Linked DNA regions of Homo sapiens. The protein of the gene in region 1 purifies or fractionates together with the protein of each later gene. This does not show direct contact. Each region holds a gene or a part of one and is shown in the gene's direction. Other genes may lie near its edges.

What was found.
Region 2: the proteins of SLC35B1 (region 1) and RMND1 purify together in Homo sapiens (affinity purification with mass spectrometry; one large-scale study listed by BioGRID and IntAct). This does not show direct contact.
Region 3: the proteins of SLC35B1 (region 1) and FAM20B purify together in Homo sapiens (affinity purification with mass spectrometry; one large-scale study listed by BioGRID and IntAct). This does not show direct contact.
Region 4: the proteins of SLC35B1 (region 1) and STRN3 purify together in Homo sapiens (affinity purification with mass spectrometry; one large-scale study listed by BioGRID and IntAct). This does not show direct contact.

Annotation. Positions count from the first base shown.
Region 1 is NC_000017.11:49,700,443-49,702,703, reverse strand, and holds the end of SLC35B1 (solute carrier family 35 member B1), read left to right. Parts: intron 1-1,193; coding exon 1,194-1,246; 3' UTR 1,247-1,761; downstream 1,762-2,261.
Region 2 is NC_000006.12:151,421,118-151,424,652, reverse strand, and holds part of RMND1 (required for meiotic nuclear division protein 1 homolog), read left to right. Parts: intron 1-1,021; coding exon 1,022-1,128; intron 1,129-2,047; coding exon 2,048-2,112; intron 2,113-3,331; coding exon 3,332-3,408; intron 3,409-3,535. UniProt on the Homo sapiens protein: Required for mitochondrial translation, possibly by coordinating the assembly or maintenance of the mitochondrial ribosome.
Region 3 is NC_000001.11:179,042,868-179,046,402, forward strand, and holds part of FAM20B (glycosaminoglycan xylosylkinase), read left to right. Parts: intron 1-847; 5' UTR 848-980; coding exon 981-1,357; intron 1,358-1,905; coding exon of another isoform or gene 1,906-1,974; intron 1,975-3,535. UniProt on the Homo sapiens protein: Responsible for the 2-O-phosphorylation of xylose in the glycosaminoglycan-protein linkage region of proteoglycans thereby regulating the amount of mature GAG chains.
Region 4 is NC_000014.9:30,911,371-30,914,905, reverse strand, and holds part of STRN3 (striatin-3), read left to right. Parts: intron 1-1,248; coding exon 1,249-1,382; intron 1,383-2,723; coding exon 2,724-2,899; intron 2,900-3,081; coding exon 3,082-3,129; intron 3,130-3,535. UniProt on the Homo sapiens protein: Calmodulin-binding scaffolding protein which is the center of the striatin-interacting phosphatase and kinase (STRIPAK) complexes.

The DNA of each region.
Region 1 (2,261 bases):
GTGGTACGATCTCAGCTCACCAATCGGGTGAGCCTCCTCCTCCTCCTGGGTTCAAGCAATTCTCCTGCCTCAGCATCCGGAGTAGCTAGGATTACAGGCATGCACCACCATGCCCGGATGATTTTGTATTTTTAGTAGAGATGGGGTTTCTCCGTGTTGGTCAGGCTGGTCTCGAACTCCCAACCTCAGGTGATTCCCCCCGCCTCAGCCTCCCAGAGTGCTGGGATTACAGGCATGAGCCACCGCGCTCAGCCCAGAGAAAACTTTTTTAAAAGAGAAAAGAGGCTGAGTGTGGTGGCTCACGCCTGTAATTCTAACACTTTGGGAGGCTGAGGCAGGAGTATCGCTTGAGTTTAGGAGTTCGAGACCAGCCTGGGCAACATGATGAGACCCTTGTCTCTGCAAAAAAATACAAAAATTAGCTGAGCATGGTGGCAGACGCCTGTGGTCCCAGCTACTCGGGGCTGAGGTGGGAGGATCGTTTGAGCCCAGGAGGTGGAGGCTGAGGTGAGCTGTGATCACACCACTGCACTCCCACCTGGGTGACAGAGTGAAAATCTGTATCCAAAGAAAATAAAAGGAGAAAAGGAAGCTTTATTTCTAATCCAGCCTTCCTAGGGTCTCCCTCTGTTGCTCAGGCTGGAGTGTAGTGGCATGATCATAGTCCACTGCAACCTTGATCTCCTGGACTCAAGTGATCCACCCACCACAGCCTCCCGAGTAGTTGCGATTATAGGCATGTACCACAATACCTGACCAATTTTTTTTTTTTTTTTTGTAGCGATGGGGTCTTGCTGTGTTGCCTAGGCTGGCCTTAAACTCCTGGGCTCAAATGATCCTCCTGCCTCAGTCTCCCAAAATGCTGGGATTGCAGGTGTGAGTCACCACATTCAGCCATAGCCTAGAAGTTTTGACTCTTAAATTTCTTTTAGTCTTGCTGTATTATATATGTATCTATATCTATCTGTATCTCTATATAGATATATTTATATAGATACAGATATCTGTAATAACTAGTATCCTGGTGCCATTCTCTTGTCTCTGAGGAAGTTACATAAAACCAGTGTTCTGACATGTATTTTATTTAAAGCCCCCATTTTGGAGATACAAGGCCGACTACCCCACCCCACCACAATCATTGGTAAGTTTCATTTCCCCCCATAAGGCTAAGCCCATTTTCTTCCTTTTCATAGGTCTTGGTCTTGATGCCAAGTTTGGGAAAGGAGCTAAGAAGACATCCCACTAGGAAGAGAGAGACTACCTCCACATCAAGAATATTTAAGTTATTATCTCAAACAGTGACATCTCTTGGGAAAATGGACTTAATAGGAATATGGGACTGAGTTCCAGTCTTTTTTAATAAAATAAAATCAAGCAAAATCACATATTCTAAAAAATGCACTTGGATTTTAACAAGACAGAGTGGTGGTTTTTGTTCTTCATGCCCTGGAGCAGTCTATGGTAAATAAAAGAGGGAGGGAAGAGGCAGAGCTGGATGTTCATTACCCAGGCTGCTCCTCTCACGGGTGTGGTTAGCATGGTTGAGTGGGCGATTCCTCCAAGAACCTGAGGATTATAGGGAGGAACTCTGTGAGATCGCAGAATTGTGCTAATGGCTTCTGTTCCGATGGGTGAGGCTTGTCCCGTTAGAGCTGGTCCCATTAGAGGACGGGTGGCTGTCCATTAGAGCCAGAGAATGTAAAAGTCACTTCCTCTCCTAAAGCTCCTGTGGGCAAATATTTCATTAAAAAAACAAAGTTGTGTTCTGTCTTTTTCTTAGGCCTGGTGCAGTGGCTCACACCTGTAATCCCAGCACTCTGGGAGGCTAAGGCAGCAGGATCACTTGAGTTCAGGAGTTTGAGACCAGCCTAGACAACATAGTTAGACCTTGTCTCCACTAAAAATCAAAAACAGAAAAGAAATATTCATTGAGGCTGGGGTAAAACGAACCCAGAGTTTCAGAATCTACTGTTTTGCCATTTCCCCACTGCCTCCCCTTCAGCCACAGCTCTATCAAGACCAGAGTGGAGACCCAGTGCATACATCATGATCAGCTTTGGAAGGTCTGTGATGTACTTTTCCTGATATTCCCCCTCCATCTGTCTGTCTGTTCTCAGTCTACCTGGTCCCCTCCAGGGAGGCTGGGTTAATCCCTCCTATTCCCCTGCCTCCTCCAGCTGCTGAAGCATTGCAGTCCTCTGCCATCCTTTGCTGTGCCAAGGTGTCACCATGCCAGCTTCTGCCTGTTGAAAGGGATGCTG
Region 2 (3,535 bases), on another chromosome or scaffold:
TAGTTTTATATGCAGCATTTTTTCACATAGAAATTTACTGTGAACGTTCTCCTTTTTATTAACTATCCTTCCAAAACACACTTTTAAGTTTTTCTTGTGTGGAGTGACTATTACTGAGCCAACCCCTACTGAACATTTGGTTTATTTCCTAATTTTTTACTCTTAAACACTGACCTTTTTTTTTTTTTTGGAGACAGAGTCTTGCTCAGTCTCCCAGGCTGGAGTGCAGTGGCGTGATTTCGGCTTACTGCAAGCTCCGCCTCCCGGGTTCACTCCATTCTCCTGCCTCAGCCTCCCGAGTAGCTGGGACTACAGGCGCCCGCCACCACACCCGGCTAATTTTATTTTGTGTTTTGAGTAGAGACGGGGTTTCACCATGTTAGCCAGGATGGTCTCAATCTCCTGACCTCGTGATCCACCTGCCTCGGCCTCCCGGAGTGCTGGGGTTACAGGCGTGAGCCACCGTGCCCAGCCAACACTGACCATTTTTTTAAAAGTTTTCAGCTGGGCAAGGTGGCTCGCACCTGTAGTCGCACCACTTTGGGAGGCCGAGGTGGGTGGATCATTTGAGGTCAGGAATTCAAGACCAGCCTGGCCAACATGGTGAAACTCTATCTCTATTAAAAATACAAAAAAAATTAGCTGGGTGTGGTTACGCATGCCTGTAATCCCAGCTACTAGGGAGGCTGAGGCAGGAGAATCGCTTGAACCTAGGAGACTGAGGTTGCAGTGAGCTGAGATCGCACCACTGCACTCTAGCCTGGGCGGCAGAGTGAGACTGTCTCAAAAAAAAAAAAAAAAGTTTTCTTGTATACAAATTTTTCTTTGCATCTTAGATTATTTCCTTAGGATAAACTCCTAGAAAGGGAATTACCTGGACCAAAGGATATGAGAACATTTGTAACACTCTTGATACAAATTGTCAAAATGACCTCCAGAAAGATGATATGGTGTCTTTTTCAAAGGAAAAGTTAAAGTGCTTTTTAAGATTTAGAAGGTATTATCTTTTTGCTTTTCACAGGGGACAGTCAAAACTTCACAGGGGGGAAATCAAGTTAAATTCAGAGCTGGATTTAGATGATGCCATTCTAGAGAAGTTTGCTTTCTCCAATGCTCTATGCCTTTCTGGTAAGTTACTACTGCTTATGGGATAGGGTACTACAGTTGTCATTTCACTGAGGGAAGTTTAAATAGTCACGATTTTGGTATATTTTCAGAATACTCAACAAAGCCTTAGCATTCCTTTTCCTTTTTTTCCCTCCATCAGAAAAAATATCTAGTATAAAAGATAGTACTGTGCTGAAGTTACTCATTCCTTATTAATTGTATTAATAAAGCTTAACCTCTCCAAAAGTATTTTTTAGATGATGATTATATTAGCCTTTGTTTTTTTCTCTTCTCTCTATGCGATTGTTATTCTTAGATAGTCTCTAATCCAGACAGAGAAGCCCAGCCTTGTGTGACTGGGCACAGGTCCCAGTGTAGAAAAACATACTCTAGTGTTCCATAGGAATGGGACCCAGAGTCACAGTGGCTATAAGTTTGTTCTGAAAGATCCACATCCCGAATAAAACTATACAAGTTCTTTAAGAATTTCTTTTGCCAGCAGTCTACCTTAGGTGGCTGCTGCAGCGTCCTGTCCATCCCACTCTGAGGGGCTTCGGAGATTTCTGAGGTTTACTCTTAGTCCTGAGGAGTGAAGGGGAGGCCAGGAAAGTCTTAGTCGCGCCCTATCTGCAGAGCTACCCATGGTATCAAGGTGTACCCTACCCTCCTCAGTTTCCAAGATGTAATACTAGAAAATCAAGAGTTCTACTAAATGTAGCTTTGGTCTTCCAATAGGGCATGGAAAGCGATTCAGTTTCCTCTATCCACTTTAATTCTGTCCTTTATGATAATTAACTATTCTTAAATTATATTTTCAAGGTTTTAGTACTTTTTCTTAAACTATTACTGAAATAGTAGTGAAGATGCTGTGCAATTATGTATTTTATATACATGTGAATATGATGATAAAGAAATGTTCCATTATTAATTTTTTTCCCAGTAAAACTGGCAATTTGGGAAGCATCACTGGATAAATTTATTGAATCTATTCAGTCAATTCCTGAGGTAATTATATCAATTTTATGCTTATTCAAGGATTGATTTTTATATGTAAAAAATATGAATTTCCCAATATAACAATATATAGCTATCCATCAGTATCCATGGGAGATTTGTTCCAAGACCCCACTGGATACCAGAATCTACCAGTGTCCAAATCCCTGATATAAAATGGTATATATTTGCATATAACCTATGCATATCCTCATGTATACTTTCAACCATCTCTAGATTACCTAAAATACCTAATATAATGTAAATACTATGTAAATAGTTGTTATACTGTATTATTTAGGAAATAATAACAAGAAAAAACAGTTTGTACATGTTCGGTACAGATGCAACCATTCTTTTTTCTCAAAATACTGTCAATTTGCAGTTGGTTGAATCTGCAGTTGCAGAACTTATAGAGGGCCGATTGTTTAGGAGTACAACAACATTATTACAAACAATAAGAAAACTACAGTAAACTTAAGAACTCCCAGTTACATATAAAATGACAAATTAAGAAACTTCATATTGATTACTTTTTACTTTTTAAAACTTCAAATTGTTTCCTCTGTTGGTGCAGTATTTTTTTTTTAATATTAATATAATTGAAATGGGGTCTGGCCATGTTGCCCAGGCTGGTCTTGAACTCCTGGGCTCAAGCGATCCTCCTGCCTCGGCCTCCCAAAGTTCTAGCATTACAGGCCACGAGCCACCATGCCCGTCAGTTGCAGTATTTTTAATGTAACTGAATTAAAGAAAAAAGTGAAATGTTTCTCTCTGAGAATGGAAATTATGACCACTTTTCCTGATTTAAGAAAGTGTTTTGCTAAATTATGAGAAAAATAGTGGTATGAAAAATACATATAAAGTTATATTGAAATTTCAGTATACATTAAAAATCATCATATTGTAATTAACTGTGTCTTTATTGTGAAAGAGTAATCTAATTATACTTCGGAAAGGAGGCCCTGCTTTTCTACTAAGAGATTAGGAATGTATATATCATTGAAAATGCTGATGAGAAGGGAAATGAAAAAAGAGAATATACAATTTCTACCTAATAAAATTATGAAATTTCAAGGTGAGTTAAGACATTAATCTGGGAGACAGCCATCCTAAAAAATATTTACATAGGATCCAAATTATGCCACTTCAGATTTTGCCCTGTTGACCTAATGCTTATTAGAAAGAGAGATACATGGTTTTTTGGTTTTTCCGATTCCCTCTCAACTAGGCTTTAAAAGCTGGGAAGAAAGTGAAACTATCTCATGAAGAAGTTATGCAGAAAATCGGTGAACTCTTTGCTCTAAGGTAAAAGTTTTCTCTCTAAATAAAATATTTCATATATTTAACAATCTCAAGAAAACATTCCCATAGTTCTGTGGTGAAGAGCAAACATTTACACGTTTATGGGAACTGTAGCTGTTTTCATTTCATT
Region 3 (3,535 bases), on another chromosome or scaffold:
GAGCTCAGAAGAGAGGAAGTGTGTGCTGATTGGCCCATGGGTGGCCATGGGTGGGCCCAGAAAAAGCACCATAAGTTCTCACTGTGGTTTGCGGACTCTTAACCAGAACCGACAGCCCAGCCCCCATGCTTCAGGCCATCCCTGGCTTGAAGGTGGGGCTTCACTGGGGACCCATCCCTTTCCGCCCAGGAGCCTGCCTCCTGCCACCATTCATGTCATCCACAGTGCCCAAGCTGTTTGTACCAAGGGATGCCTGCAGGCCTACACTGAGCCATCCTCAGTCCTCCCTTGGCCTCCCTCCCATGCTCATTGGTGCCCAAAGTCCGGAGTGGGCTGAGACAGCAGGGGCCTGGTGTATCAGCACTGCCCCAACCACATATATACAGGTCACGACATCACCTGGGCTTTGCCACAATTTTGCTCCACCCCAGAGTGGGTGCGGGGAGTGGGGAGAGGCCAGGCAGCAGGAGTGGCATTTTGGAGCCTGTGGGTGTAGCTGTGGCTGGGTGGCTGCAGCTGTACCCAGGAACACGGGGCCCCTGCTCCACCATCTTGGAAGAGGGCAGGGCTCCCACCTGTTCCCAGCTCCTTCCAGCTCCGTGGAGTGTGCAGCCCTGGCCATGCCTCTCCCACTGCAGCTGGTGTCTTCGCAGCAGCTGCTCCAGTTGGGCCACTGCTGCCATCATTAGGTCCTTCTCCAGATTAGTTAATTTTAAATTATTGAACCTTCTTGAGCTCAAGAATAGAAAGCCTAAAAGGGTGAGTCATATATTAGAGGCTTACAAAAGATTCAGGGGTGGAAGGACAGAATTTTTGATCAAATTTTGCTTTGTACTTGGGCTTGCAGGAACTGTGGAAGGTGCATCAGTGAAGAAATGGACCAATGTGTATAATCATGGAATCTCCTTGCTAACCATCACCACCAGCTCTCCTTAATACATGAGCAAGAGTGGGTCAGGGGAGAAGGAAAAGAGGTCAACATGAAGCTAAAGCAGCGAGTCGTGCTGTTAGCAATTCTCCTTGTCATTTTTATCTTCACCAAAGTTTTCCTGATTGACAACTTAGATACATCAGCTGCCAACCGGGAGGACCAGAGGGCCTTTCACCGAATGATGACTGGCTTGCGGGTGGAGCTGGCACCCAAGCTGGACCATACCTTGCAGTCTCCCTGGGAGATTGCAGCCCAGTGGGTGGTTCCCCGGGAAGTGTACCCTGAAGAGACACCAGAGCTGGGGGCAGTCATGCATGCCATGGCCACCAAGAAAATCATTAAAGCTGATGTGGGTTATAAAGGGACACAGCTGAAAGCCTTACTGATACTTGAAGGAGGCCAGAAAGTTGTTTTCAAACCTAAGCGGTAAGTTTTGATCTTGGAAGCTGCATGTGCTAGTTGGTTGATTCATTTAACTTGGGATTTATATAAGATTTATTTTGTCATCTTCTCTTGGAAGTCTCTTCAGTAAAATAAGAGGGGTAGACTAGATCTCTAAAGTCTTTTCTAGCACTTAACATGAATCTACCTTTATAGTATCATATAGAATAGTCTTCCTGCCCTAAAAATCCTCTGTGTTCTACCTACTCATTTTTCCCTCTCTGCCCCAGAACACCTGGTAACCCACTGGTCTTTTTACTATCTCCGTAGTTTTGCCTTTTCCTGAATGTAATATAGTTGCAATCACAGAATGTAAGCCCTTTCAGATTGGCTTCTTTCACTTAGTAAAGTGCATTTAAGGTTTATACATATCTTTTTGTGGCATGATAGTTCATTTGTTTTTATCACTGAATAATATTCCATTGTCTAGATGTACCACAGCTTAATTATCCATTCACTTACTGAAGGACATCTTGGTTGCTTCCAAGTTTGGGGCAATTGTGAATAAAGCTGCTATAAACATCCATGTGCAGGTTTTTGTGTGGACATAAATTTTCAACTCATTTGGATAGATACCAGAAGCATAATTGCTGGACCACATGGTAAGAGTACGTTTCATTTTGTAAAAAACTGCTAAACTATCTTCCAAAGTAGCTGTACCATTTTGTGTTTCTACCAGCAATGCATGAGAATTCCTGTTGCTCCACATCCTCACCAGGGTTTGGCATCAGTGTTTCAGATCATAGCTGTTCTAATAGATCTCTTATTTCTTTCACCTGTTTTAAGTAAAGAATTGGGCCATTTTAGTTACCTTAGTTAACTAAATATGTATGTTGTTCATGATCCCTTTGGACTTCCTAGGGATCTACAGAGATAATTTGTGTGACAATTCTGTGATACAGTTAATTATTTTTATTTATTTATTTATTTCTCTACACAAGACAGCTTGGAGGGTATAGTTAATTTTCTAAAAATGTTTTCTGAGTGTATGAATCTGAATTAGGTTAACATCATGATGGTGATTTGTATTCTTTTGCCGGGAGTTAGTTACCAATGAATATTCTCAAAGTTTGTAATGTCTGAAATCTTTTGGGTACTAAACATTTTTTTCATTCCTCAGTAGAGCTTTTGAAAAAATTATAACATGACTTTAGATTTCTTTCTGGAGTGGGAGAAGAAATGTAGGGAAAAGATGGACAAAATTCAACTCCCTTTCTTACCCAACTATTAGTAAATGAAAGGCAGTCAGAGCATGAATGTATAGGGAGCCCAGAAATGGAAGGGATCACTGTTGGTCTGGAACTGGGAAATATATGTCAGTGATGTGGAAATTAGGAAAGTTAAAACATTTGGTAGACTTTCAGAGAATAAAAATTTGACTGGGGCTGGGCGTGATGGCTCATGCCTGTAATCCCAGCACTTGGGGAGGCCGAGGTGGGTGGATCACTTGAGCCTGGGTGATGTAGTGAGACTCTGTCTCTATAAAAAAATAAAAAATTAGCTGGGCGTGGTGGTGTGCACCTATAGTCTCAGCTACTTGGAAGGCTGAGGTGGGAGGATGGGAAGATTGCTTGAGTGCGAGAGTTTGAGGCCGCAGCAAGCCATGCTCGTGCCACTGCCCTCCAGCCTGGGTGACAGAGTGAGACCTGTCTCAAAAAAAAAAACCAAAAAACAAAAAAAAACCGTGGTTATGTGGGCCTGGGATCTAATTTCTGTAATGCACACTATTTGCCAGGGATTACACTAAGTACTTTTGTATCTCTTAATCCTTTAAACCCTTATACGAAGGTTTAACCTTTTTGGACAATTTCAGTTCTTATTTCCTGAATAAGAAACTGAGGTTCAGAGAGTGTAACTAACTTGACAAGGTCACCTCACATCAATCAGTGGTACAGAAGTTTGAACCCATATTTGTTAGAGTTGTAAACAGCTTGTATTCTGCCACACACATGGAATTCTCTAAGTTTGTTTGCTTCCCATAAGTGATGACGTGGAGCACTCATCATCAAAAATCGCATTTAGCTTTGAAGTTTGGTCTTTGACTTCTTGGCCTGAGAGATAAGCAGCATAAACAGAGTAATGGAAAAAGGCAAACTAAAGACAAAAATAAAATTTGTATATAAAGAGATGGCCGGGCACGGTGGCTCACGCCTGTAATCCCAG
Region 4 (3,535 bases), on another chromosome or scaffold:
TGTATAGAAAGGAAAACGCATTTTAAATAATTGGAACTGTTAATATTAACATGAAAAGCTGTAATAATGCACATGATATAGTTGAGAAAACTAAGTGAAGCTCAACCTGAGTTTAGTTTGAAATTGAAATGGCAAATCTGATCAGAAATTAAAGCTCTGTGGTCAAGATTACTTGCTTCATTTTAGAGTGTCATGGTAACTAGAATGGGACATTAAAATAAAAGTCATAGTCAAAGCTTTAAAGCTGGAAGACAGGCTGGGCGCGGTGGCTCACGCCTGTAATCCCAGCACTTTGGGAGGCCGAGGCAGGTGGATCACTTGAGGTCAGGAGTCAAGACCAGCCTGGCCAACATGGTGAAAGCCCATCTCTACTAAAAACAGAAAAATTAGCCGGGCGTGGTGGCGGGCGCCTGTAATCCCAGCTACTTGGGAGACCGAGACAGGAGAATTGCTTGAACCTAGGAGGTGGAGGTTGCAGTGAACCGAGATCGCACCACTGCACTCCAGCCTGGGCGACAGAGCAAGACTGTGTCTCTAAATAAATAAATAAATAAAGCTGGAAGACATTCTGAAGACCACGTGGATTAACCTTTTATAGAAAGGAAACTGACATTGTTGGTGGAAGAATTTTTTCCTAGACCATTGCTGTTACTAAAGGAATCTGAACAATTAAAGCTTCATTCTAGTGAACTGATATAGTATATAGCTGACTGTAAACCATTTACATTTCAATGTTTGTACTAGTTTTTATCAGGGACTAGGATGCCTAGTACTTCTTTAGAAAGCAAAAGGACTTGGTGACAACCTATTAACATTTAAAAAATACTATATGACTACTTTGAGGTCCTTGAGGTCCATGGTAGAGGTTTCCCCTCATGAATGCAAAAATCTGATATTTAACTCCATTATTTAATCAAAATTTGTCCTATTTCTTATTTAACATGTAAACTATAGTTATAATTGTACTGAAGTGATAAGAGATTTAGACAGACAAAGCTTTTGTGCCCTAGCTTCCACCCCAGAATAATATATCTAGTGCACATTTTATTTGTGGACAGTTAATACACCACAGTTCCAACACATTTGTTTAACACTGCTTAGTAACAGGATTTTTTGAGTAGAAGTGGGAAAATAAAAATTAATTATATTACTGAATATTGTAACTGTTAAGTGCTTAAATTTTCCCCACAATATTGTCTTGTACTGTATGATTTTTCAGCATTTAAGAAGCGGTTTTGTTCTTTATAGCTGAACCAATAACGTTTCCATCTGGAGGAGGCAAGTCATTTATTATGGGTTCTGATGATGTTTTGTTAAGTGTACTGGGCCTTGGAGACCTTGCAGACTTGACGGTAACAAATGATGCAGACTATAGTTATGATGTAAGTGCAGTTTTATTTTTAATTTTTTAATGATTTAATAGAAGGCTCCTTATTTTTTGGAATCACTTATAAAACAGAATTAATATCAAGGTGCATGGAAAAGATAAGTTTGTGTCAATGTGTTGATTTGAAGTGACATGTTTTTCTTTTATAACTACTCTCTTTGTGGTATTTAAATTTTTTTTTTAGGTATTTTGGTGGATTAACTAGAAGTTTGAGATGATTAATATATTGGTCAGTAAATACATCTTGAGTAGTCAACTCTCAATTATCTCAAATTAAGCCATATTTTGGTGTTAACAAGAAAAAAAATAACCTGAATCATATATTTGCCTTCAGAGTACTTCTTAAAAAGCATGTTTTATTTTTGAACTTTTATTTTCTTAAGGAAATATTTTAAAGTTTCTGAACATTTTAAAGTTAGCTTGCATCATTTCCTGAATACTTAACTCCTTCATTAGAGGATTGGGGAGTGGATGGAAGGGTTGGGGAGTGGGGAGTCCAGTGTTAGAGGTGAAACTTGTCTTGGATTTAATTTTTTCTAGTCATTAATATTTCAATTGAGAGTTAACTATACTTGTTAGATCTTTATGTTAATTGCAGTTTTTCAGCAATTTTTTTTTCTTTTTATAATGAGTTTCTTTTTTCCACGTTTTATACTTAACATTAGCATGCTTAGAGACAGCCTTTGGTGGGCTGGATTATTCTCATTAATATATTTTTTTAAGTATATAAGTGACTAAATTCCAGTAAACTTTTGACTGCTTTAGAAGTGGTTTCACAGCCTATCTTTACAGATGGAGAAATGTGAAGGTAAAAAGATAAACCTCTGTCAATATCAAGAATTATGAAAATGGGATAAAAATATTCTTAAAGGGTCTTTAGTTCAGACTTTCAGAAAGTACCTTAACTTGCTGCCTTTAATAATTTCACATGCTAATACGTTTTCTAAATGACAACTTTACTGTTAATACTGTACCGTTGGATATTTGTAATAACTTATGTAATTATTTTTCATGTAAAGTATTGCAGCAATGGTAGTTATTTTGTTCTCATCTGACATTTAATGGGAGCTTTGGGTTTAGCTTAATAGGTAAAAACAGATTAAGGAACTCTTCATTTGACCTAGGCTATTTGTAAGGCGAATGAAATTATTCTGAGTTATTATTAAATGATAAAGTTTTTTTAGAAAGTTTTAAAGGTACATTAAATTTCCACTGGACATTTTAGCCAACAGTTTTAAATATATGTGTTAAACACACCAAAAAGAAACGAACAAACACTCCACATGCCTTCCAGTTTACTACTTTTACCACTAAATATTGTGCTCTTTCCTTTTAGTTGCCTGCTAATAAAGATGCCTTTCGAAAGACATGGAATCCCAAGTATACACTACGTAGCCATTTTGATGGAGTACGGGCATTAGCTTTTCATCCTGTAGAACCTGTGCTGGTTACTGCTTCTGAGGACCATACCCTGAAACTTTGGAACCTGCAAAAAACAGTTCCTGCCAAAAAGCAAGTATTTTAGTGTTAGCCTGGTGTATTTCTTCCAATTTTGCTAATATAAGTAATTATTCCTCATTATTGTTGCATGTCTTTAATGCACACATTTGATCTAATGACTATTTAATATCAACCAGTGATTCATAGTTATTTAATTGCCTTCTCTTCCCCTACCCTTTTTCCCCCTCTTTTAGGAGTGCCTCTTTAGATGTAGAGCCTATCTACACATTTAGGGCCCACATGTAAGTTTTACTGAATTGGTATTTAATTAACATCATCATTATTGTTAAATATTATTTATCGGTCCTCAAACCTTGTAATTTTCTCAATGTTTTGTATTAGAAAAGATGTATTACTTGAATAATAGCTATTTAATAATTGTATTGGTGAGACTATGAATATAATAGTACCATTCAGGCCAGATGCAGTAGTTCATGCCTGTAATCTGAGGATTTTCGGAGGCTGAGGCGGGCAGATCACTTGAGGTCAGGAGTTCGAGACCAGCCTGGCCAACATGGTGAAACTCCGTCTCTACCACAAAATACAAAAATTAGCTGGGCATGTTGGCGTGCGCTTGTAGTCTCAGCAACTCAGTAGGCTGAGGCAGGAGAATCGCTCGAACCTGGGAGGTGGAGGTTTTACTGAGCA